Regions from separate parts of the Homo sapiens genome. Here all the other regions are reported to be linked to region 1. The links are microRNA targets in miRTarBase. Many come from high-throughput screens and were not tested one by one. Region 1 holds a microRNA gene; each other region holds the end of a gene's coding sequence.

What was found. Region 1 holds the annotated microRNA hsa-miR-5692a (CAAAUAAUACCACAGUGGGUGU, at 1,136-1,157, opposite strand). A microRNA usually pairs through its seed, bases 2 to 8, with sites in the 3' UTR of a target mRNA and lowers its output. Matches are read on the target gene's strand: a 7mer-m8 pairs with bases 2 to 8, a 7mer-A1 pairs with bases 2 to 7 and ends in A, and an 8mer does both.
Region 2: miRTarBase lists AVPI1 as a target of hsa-miR-5692a. The part of its 3' UTR that is shown has no 7-base or 8-base seed match.
Region 3: the mRNA of TRDMT1 is a reported target of hsa-miR-5692a. Seed matches in the 3' UTR shown: 7mer-m8 at 375-381, 8mer at 1,554-1,561 and 7mer-m8 at 2,095-2,101.

The regions. Positions count from the first base shown.
Region 1 is chr7:97,961,590-97,964,821 of GRCh38, reverse strand. MIR5692A1 (microRNA 5692a-1) reads right to left here and starts at 1,164; the gene lies at 1,096-1,164. All of the region lies in intron 1 of CZ1P-ASNS (CZ1P-ASNS readthrough), which reads left to right. It overlaps MIR5692C2 (microRNA 5692c-2), which reads left to right and starts at 341; the gene lies at 341-417.
Region 2 is chr10:97,675,214-97,678,213 of GRCh38, reverse strand. It overlaps AVPI1 (arginine vasopressin induced 1), which reads left to right. Exons shown (of 3, transcript NM_021732.3): 3 at 189-790. The coding sequence ends at 345. It overlaps PI4K2A (phosphatidylinositol 4-kinase type 2 alpha), which reads right to left. Exons shown (of 9, transcript NM_018425.4): 9 at 1,780-3,000. Among named protein-coding and RNA genes, the nearest start is that of AVPI1, 11 kb to the left of the region's middle. RefSeq lists enhancers at 1,050-1,119, 1,937-2,436.
Region 3 is chr10:17,146,314-17,149,313 of GRCh38, reverse strand. It overlaps TRDMT1 (tRNA aspartic acid methyltransferase 1), which reads left to right. Exons shown (of 11, transcript NM_004412.7): 11 at 174-3,000. The coding sequence ends at 274. Among named protein-coding and RNA genes, the nearest start is that of CUBN, 18 kb to the right of the region's middle.

The DNA of each region.
Region 1 (3,232 bases):
TTAGGAGAAATAGCCGTCTAGGATATTAGGAATAATGTCACAGGGAACACACCCCCTGTGACATTAGGATAATACGAATGATATGCCAAGATGTACACGCATTGTGACATTCGTACTAATATCCCTCTGGTATACTATGAATAATATCACAGGGTGTACATCCCTGTGACATTAGGAGTAACATCCCCCTTGAATAGGAGGAATAATATCACAGGGGGTACACACCCTGTGACTTTAGGAGTATCAGCGCCCTGGAATATGAGGAATACTGTCCCAGGGTATTAACCACCTGTGACCTGAGGAGTAACATCCTGTTGGAATATTACGACTCATATCACAGTGTGTACACCAACTGTGATATTAGGAGTCCTATTTATTTTTAGGATATTAGGAATAATATCACAGTAGGTGTACACAAATAGTATGTACGCCCACGGTGATATTAAAAGTTATATCTCCCTAGGGTATTCCGAATAACATCACAGTGGGTGTACACCCACTGTGATATTTGAAGTCATATCTCCCTAAGATGATAAAAAAATCAAAGGGTGGACCCTGTCTGTGACATCAAAAGTAACATCTCTGTGGCTATTCCGAATAGCATCACAGGGTGTACACAGCCTGTGACGTTAGGAGTAGCATCCCCATAAGATATTCCGAGTAATATCACAGGGTGTACACCCCATGTGACATTAAGAGCAACATCTTCTTAGGATATTACGAACAACCTCACAGGGTGTACGCCCCCTGTGACTTTAAAAGTAACATCCCCCTAGAATATTAGGAATAATATCATGGGTGTACACCCCGTGTGACATTAGGAGTAACATCTCCCTAGGATATTACAAAGAACATCACTGGGTGTACGCCCTCTGTCTTATTAGGAGTAACATCCTTCTAGGATATGAAGAATATCACAAGGCGTACACACACTGATATTCGGAGAGATATCTCCCTAGGATATAAGGTGTATCACAGAATGTACACGCATGGTGTACACCCACTGCGACATTAAAAGCAATATCTCCCTATGAGAGTATGAGAAATATCAAAGGGAGAACACTCTCTGTGATATTAGATGTAATGTTTACCATGGATATTACAAATAATATCACAGGGTGTACACACATGAGGTACACCCACTGTGGTATTATTTGTACTGTCTTAGATATAATTCTAATATAACACGGAGAGCTATAACTCTGTAGTATCTGAGATATTACAAATAATATCACAGTCTACACATAGTGTACATAGTGTACACCCACTGTGAGATTTACAGTAAAATCTCCCTATAAGACTACAAATATTATCGAAGTGTGTGCACCCCCGTGACCTTAGGAGTAACATCCTTCTGGATATCAGGAATCATATCATGAGGCATACACACCCTGTGACATTTTGTACACTCTTTGTGACATTCAAAGTCACAGCCCCCTAGTATATTACGAATAATATCAAAGGCGGTTGATGCACACGGTGTACACATCCTGTTACATTAGGCGTAATCTTTTTCTGTGATTTATGAATATCACAGAAGGTGTACACACATGCTGTACACTCCAGGTGACATTAGGAGCAACACCCCCCCAAGATATTAGAAATAATATTACCAGGGTTGCATACACATGGTGTACTCTCCCTGTGACATTAGCAGCAACATTCCCCTAGAATATTACGAATACCATCAGAGGGGGTGTACACACATAATGTACGCACCTTGTAAAATTAGGAGTAGCATCTCCCTACGATGTTATGAATAATATCACAGAAGGTGTACGCACATGGCCTATACCCCACGTGATGTTAGGAGTTACATCTTTCTAGTATGTTAGGAATAATACCACAAAGGTGTTCACACATGGTTAACAGCATATGGAATATTAGGATTAACATCCCTCAAGAATATTACAAATAACATCACAGGGGCTGTGCACACATGGTGCACATGCCCTGTGACATTAGGAGTACATTTCCCTGGCACATTGCAAGTAATATCACAGAGTGTACACCTTCTGTGACATTTGGAGTAACATCCCCTAGGATAGTATGAATAATATCACAGGGTGTACATCCCCTGTGACCTGAGGAGTAACATCCTTCTAGGACATTGTGAATAACATCACAAAATGAATGCACAGCCCCTGTGACACGAGGAGTAACATCCACCTAGGATATTCTGAATAATATCACAGAGAGTACACCCCATGTGACAGTAGGAGAAACCTCCCCCGAGGATATAACGAACAAATACAGAGGATGTACACGCGTCGTGTCACTAGCATTAACATCCATTTAGGATATTACGAATATTATCACAGTGTGAACGCCCCCTGTAATATTAGGAGTAACATCCCCCTACAATATTGGGCACCATATCATACGGTGTACACCCCCTGTGACATTAGAGGTAACATTTCATTAGGTTATGATGAATAATATTACAAGGTGTAAGGCCCCTGCGACATTTGGAGTAACATTTCCATAAAATATTACGAATAATATCACTGTTTGTACACCACGGGTGACATTAGGAGTCCCAGCCTCCAAAATTATTATGAATAACTTCACAGGGCGTACACCCTCTGTGACATTAGGAGTAACATCTTTCTAAAATATGACGAATAAAATCAAAAAGTGTACACCCCATGTGACATTAGAAGCAACATTGCCCGAGGATATAAGAAATAATATCAGATTGTGTACGTGCATTGTGACATCAGTAGTAACATCCCTTTAGGGTATGACGAGTATTATCAGAATGTGAATACCATCTGTAACATTAGGAGTAACATCACCCTACAACATCGGGAATAATACCACAGGGTGTACACCACCTGTGATATTAGTGGTAATATTTCTTTAAGATATTATGAATAATATCACGGGGTGTACAGCCCCTGTGAGATTAGGACTAACATATCCAAAAAAGCTTGACAAATCATATCACGGTTTATACACCAAGTGTGACATTAGGAGTAACATCCCCCAAAACTATTATGAATAACTTCACAGATTGTACACGCTCTGTGATATTAGGGGTTCACATCTTCCTAGAATGTGAAGAATAACATCACAGGAGGAACACCCCCGTGATATGAAGGGTAACATCACTCTAGGATATTACGAATAATATAACAAAGTGTACCCAATTTGTATGGTAGGAGTAACATCCCCTGGGATACTACAAATCATAGCACAGAAAGCGCAGCCCCTGTGACAACAGGAGGAA
Region 2 (3,000 bases), not on the chromosome of region 1:
TCTACTGCAGAGAAATCTGTAAACTTTGTCTAGTCAGACAGTTCTCAGAGGGGGAAAGACCAGAGCAGAGCCCCGCTCTCATTTTGCTCCAAATCATATGTTTTATGGTCCACCATGACGAAATCTCTTGAAGTCCCCATTCCATTCTTCCTATTGATGTTGGCTAATCATACACTTGTTCTCTGCAGAATCCTGGAGCCCCACTCTGCACTGGCCAACCCACAGAGTGCCACAGAGACAGCCTCCAGTGAGCAGTATCTGCACTCTAGGAAGAAAAGTGCCAGGATCCGCCGGAACTGGAGGAAGTCAGGCCCCACAAGCTACCTCCACCAGATCAGACACTGATCCAGGGAAAGAGCCAGGAATGGCAGTGTCTTCCCTCTTGCCAAAAGGCCTGGGGAGGTGAAGGAAGAGAGACTTTAGGCAAGCAGCCCAAAGGGGTAAATGAAAGCAAGAGGCTGCTGCCACTGACCTGCTCCATTCAGAACAAGACTGGATGCTTCTGTTGAGCTCTCCATTATGTGGGACCCATTCCTCACCAAAATGAGGAGAGACAGTGACTGTTCCTGCCACAGTCCTTCCCAGTCTAACACTATTCCTGGGCTGCATGATATTCCCCTGGGAGCAAAGTGACAGGCACTTAGATGCAGCATTTCACCACTCATGCTACTAATCATCTACCTGCTACTACTGTAAACCATGGTTCCAGCAGCCTGTTCCACACCCCCACACCATCAGGATAGCACAGGGAAACTGTAGTTTAAGTGGCAAATAAAAACATTTGCATCAAGAGCTGTGTGAGTCTGTCACAGAAGGGGAGGAAATGAAACAGAGTGGGAGGGGCAAGAGTGTCCCCAGGAAGGAAAAATCAGGGCTGGCCTCCTCTCTCCTTTTCACCTCCCTCTCCTTTTTCACCCCCATGCTGAGCCCCTGGACCACAGCCTCCTTTTCCAGAGTCTGTTGGATCGGGAGTAAAGAGGGGAGTCTCTGCAGCAGTCCTGATCCATAGGATCAGGAGAAGGGGGAAGACTGTCATGGTCAGCCCAGCACAGTAGGCTGAGGCCTTGGGCTGGCTTAATCTGTAGTCAAACTAGTGGTGCCAGATCCTCATTTGGTTTCTTCATCCTTATGGGCTGACCATCCCAAGGTGGACTGATGATTCTGAAGTTGCCTGCGTTATATCCTAGGCTTCCCATGGCCTGGAAACCCTTGAAGGCAGGGTTTTTCCCACAGTTCTGGCTCCACCTCAAGAGAGGCATACTCTGTGCTTATTAGCTTTCTTCTCCCTCTCCACCCACCCTATATGCTTGATTATTCAGGGTTTGAAGTGGGGCAGTGATGTACACAGGGCAGGGCTGCCCTCTGGTGGCCAAGAGGAGGAACCACTACTACCTTGAGTCAGGTAGGTCCTCTTTTTTATTTTATTGTTTATTTATTTATTTATTTATTTTTATTTACTGAGAGACAAAGTCTTACTCCAGGCTGGAATGCAGTGGTGCAATCTCGGCTCAGTGCAACCTCCAACTCCCGGGTTCAAGTGATTCTCCTGCCTCAGCCTCCCAAGTAGCTGGGATTACAGGCGTGTGCCACCACACCCAGCTAATTTTTGTATTTTTAGTAGAGACGAGGTTTCGCCATGTTGGCCAGGCTGGTCTCAAACTCCTGACCTCAAGCAATTCACCCACCTCAGCCTCCCAAAGTGCTGGGATTACTGGTGTGAGTCACTGCACCCAGCCTGTAGGTCCACATTTCTTATCCCAAGCCCTTGGCACTAGATTATTTTGGAATTCAGATTTTTTATTTTTGGCTCTTAGGAAGTAGTCAGCAAATACTGTATAATCCCTAGTAGGGAACCATGTCATAAAATATATTGACATTTCTGCAACAAAGAATCACACTAAAAGGAACACATCATAATTACCCATAGCTTCCTATCAGTGTAAGTTCAGGTCAGGTTTGGTTTCAAATGGGTTATGAAAATACTTTTGGTTTTCAGAGCATTGGGACTTTGGAAATGAGGACCTGGATCATCCTTTATTAGGGAGAAATAGCCCCAGGAGCCACGTCTCAGCAATTCCATGGAAACACAGGTTTCTTTGCCCTCAAAATTCCGTTCCTACCTTCTTTGTCTTCCTTCCCCCAAAGAAACTGGACAAAAAAGGTCAGAACTGTATTTGTTATTCATACATTTGCGTTGATTTAAATACATTACGTACAATTTCTACATTGGATTAGAAGAATGACACAGGGGGCAGCAACACTCTCGCAGCCCAGCCTCCATTCCCTGACACTGGAGGCAGGGCCTATGGCTGGCAGAGGGACGGTGTTCCATGAGTGCCACTCAGAAGCCTCCCCCGGCATTCTGGGCCCCTGGCTCTTCCAGAGTCCACATTCAAGGCAACCTGAGCACAGGCTTGAGGGAGAGTGGAGAAAGGCCAGGAAAGGATGCCCACACTCTTGCCTGCCAGGCCCAGGACCAGCTCTCTCCTACACTGGACCCAATTTCCTTCTGATCACAGAGCTGGTCTGGATCAAGACAATGTGGAGATCTGGTGTGGAGGCTGTGGCCAGGTGAGGCAGCCGGGCTCCCTGTTAGACCCCCAGGCTCTCTTGAGCACCAGATGGGCACTTTACCAACAGGTTTGGGTAAAAATGTCTACAGAGAGCTATGCACACCTGGGTCCCCTTCTGGCTCCTACAGTCAAGGGGCAAGTGTTCTCTCGAACATTGTTCCCAAGGCCAGTGTCCGAGTCAGCTGCATGTGATTGTCGGGGCTGGGATTGGGGCAGGCAGGCGAGCTGTACCTTCGTCCACAGGGCATGCACATCCAGCTCTCAGAAATTCTTCCTGTCAGCCAGGTGGAAGCCCGGGACAAGTGGACTCTTGGTGGCTGGACTGGAAGGGGACCGGCGGGGACCAGCCTGGACCAGCTGACCAGAGGGCTGCACATCTCTGCTCTGCAGCCGGGCAAGCAGAGGACATGCAGCCATAGTCCTCACT
Region 3 (3,000 bases), not on the chromosome of region 1:
TAATGTTATAGAATATTTTTGGCTCCAAATTCTCTTTTGTTAATAAAACTTCATGGAGACCTTAGTGATTTACTTATGAAATGACCGCTGTGCCCTTACTAAAGGATACATCCTTTCATCTCTGGAAATTGTGATTACAAATGATTTCTTTAAATTGTTCTTTGTCTTTTTAGGATTTCCTGAGAAGATAACAGTGAAACAGCGTTATCGCCTACTTGGAAATAGTCTCAACGTGCATGTAGTAGCTAAACTAATCAAAATCTTATATGAATAATTTTGAAATAACTCTGAAAGATGGTCATATGATATTCCTTCATTTTCAGAGAGTAATTCTGAAATTCTGTTTTGAACTAATTCTGGTGAAATTTAACTAAATTATTTTAATCTGTCCTTATTAAGAAATTTGGATTTTATTAAAAAAATCCATGTGTTTCATCAAATTTATATTACTGTATTTTATAAAATACGAACTATTGTTATGCTTTATGGAGAGTATATTTTCATATGAAACTGATAAATATATATGTGGAATATTCTTTTTAAAAACAATTTTATAAACAAATCAAGGAGCACTAGAGCTTTAGTGTCTACATGAGTATCTTGTGAAGTGTCATAACAGGCATAACATATTTTTATGTTAATTAAAGAAGTTTTTTATTTCTAATTTTAAAATAATGATTCTAATTCTAGCCCATTGAATGTTTTACTTAATTTCCAATCCTGTAAATATTTCTTTATTTCATCTAAACAAATGCATATGATATGTAAACCAAATTATCATCATTCAGTTTATACAGCAGACTGAAGAATATGTCAGGAAAAATAATCCTAAATGTTTGATTACCTCTCCATGAAGCGGCCACAGAAACTGTTGGTGCACATTATCTACATTTTCCTCAGCCTCTATCTGAAGGACAAAACTCATTTTTCCTTCTTCATTTTGTATGTACTTTCCTTTAGTTGACTATTATCAAAGCTTGTTTTTGTCTTCTCAGCTTCTGAGTTGAATTTGCCTTTGCACGCTGAGGAATGTAGCATGACGTTAAGATTTCAGGGAGGAAGCTGCCCTCTGATCCCATGTCATATGACAGTACTCCCCTCCCCCCAGTTGTTCTTTATTGTAGCAACATACACTCTCAATGAACTTTTATGACTTTTAACTTTCTCTGTCTCTCTTCCTCAGCAGACCTCTTGGAATTAGGGTTTCTAATCAAACTAAGTCTTGCATCATAAATTCTATGGTTTGTGATAAAAGCAAGTGACAAAGAGAAGAGAGATGAAAAGAAACAAGTCCAGAAATCATATTACAAGATTTTAATTCAAATTTTTCTTCTTAAAAATCAGCTATTTAGAGGTGGATAAATTGGAAGTTTGTGCATTGCTTGTGGGAACGTAAAATGGTTCAGCTGCTGTTGGAAAACGCTATGGAGGTTCGTCACAAAATTCAACATAGAATTACCCTATGATTCAGCGATTCCACCTCTGGCTATAGATCCAAAAGAATTGAAAGCAGGGACTTGAACAGATATTTGTACACCAGCGTTTATAACACCATTATTTACAGTAGCCAAAAGGTAGAAGCAGCCCAAGTGTCATCCCATTCACCCATGAATGGATGCAGGAATTGTGTTCCGTGCATGCAGTGGAATAGTACCAGCCTTCCGCAGGAAGGAAATTCTGACATATGCGGTGACATGGATGAACCTTGAGTACATTATGCGAAGTGAAATAAGCCACCCTGTGGGGATGGAGAATGGGTAGTTAGTGCATAATGGATACAAAGTTTCTGATTGGGGTGATGAGAAAGTTCTGGAGGTGGATGGGGAGGATGGTTGCACAACAGTGTGAGTGTACTTAATGCCACTGCAACTGTATATTTAAAAATAGTTAAAATGATAAATTTTACATTATGTATATTTTACTGCAATTGAAAAAATCATACTCTATTACCAATTTTTCAGAACTCATAGATAAATATGAATGTAGGGAAGCTGTAAGCCAGCCCATATACAGAAACTATCACTATCTACATTTTTCATATGTGTTCAGACAGAGCCTATTACAAGTCTCATAAATTTCAGTAAACAATCACAAATTATTTTGGCACACTTTCATGTAGGTTCTGTTCACTGCTGAAATATTCTAAATAAAATGGTTTAGAGTTTTACTGTAACTATGAATAATTATGCTATAATTATAGTATCCCACATTCGGTTGAGCAACATTATACAAAATAAGTGTCGAGTTACTGTGCACCAACTATAAATACTTGAAAGGTCTGTAGAGACATTTGCTTACAAACTGGTAGACAGAATGTAGCTTAGTGGAATTCTTAAATTATGGGAATGTATTCACAGGAAGACGGTGATTCTTGCCCTTAATTCATAATTGAAAATATGCAGTAACAAGCATAAAACTCACATCTTAATGAAGATGTATCTACCAGTGTCATTCAATTAGCAGATGTATATGTATGCATAATTAATTTGGAAAATGTTATTTTATGGAATGTCTGCTATATGCTTTTGGTAATAATGCTGTATATAAAATTTGCACTGGAAATTCTGTTTCCTGATATTTGGACTTGTACATTTATTCAGATGTTGGAAAACATAGCTTCTCATTTTCAGGAGAACTATGTGTAATTCAGTCTTCACCATACCTTACAGTAAACCGATTTTTCGTTCTCCTTTTCCCATCATCCCTGCTCTTTTAAACGGCTTGCCAGATAATTGTAAGGTATTTATTACCCTGCTTCATATTTTTAGTATGTCTTCAGGATCCAAAACTAATTCTAAGAGATGACCAAATCAATTAATGTAAACAAAATGAGTCATAGTTGGAAAATGATTTCGAAGAGGTGGGTAGTCATTGTAGGAGGGGTCAGAGCCTGACAATCCTCAGTGGCAGGCAAGAAAGAGGAATGATGGCATCACCTTCACAGAGGACCCTGGCCATGGTGTTCTGTCTGTGAAATCAGACCTTCACCATGGGCACTGC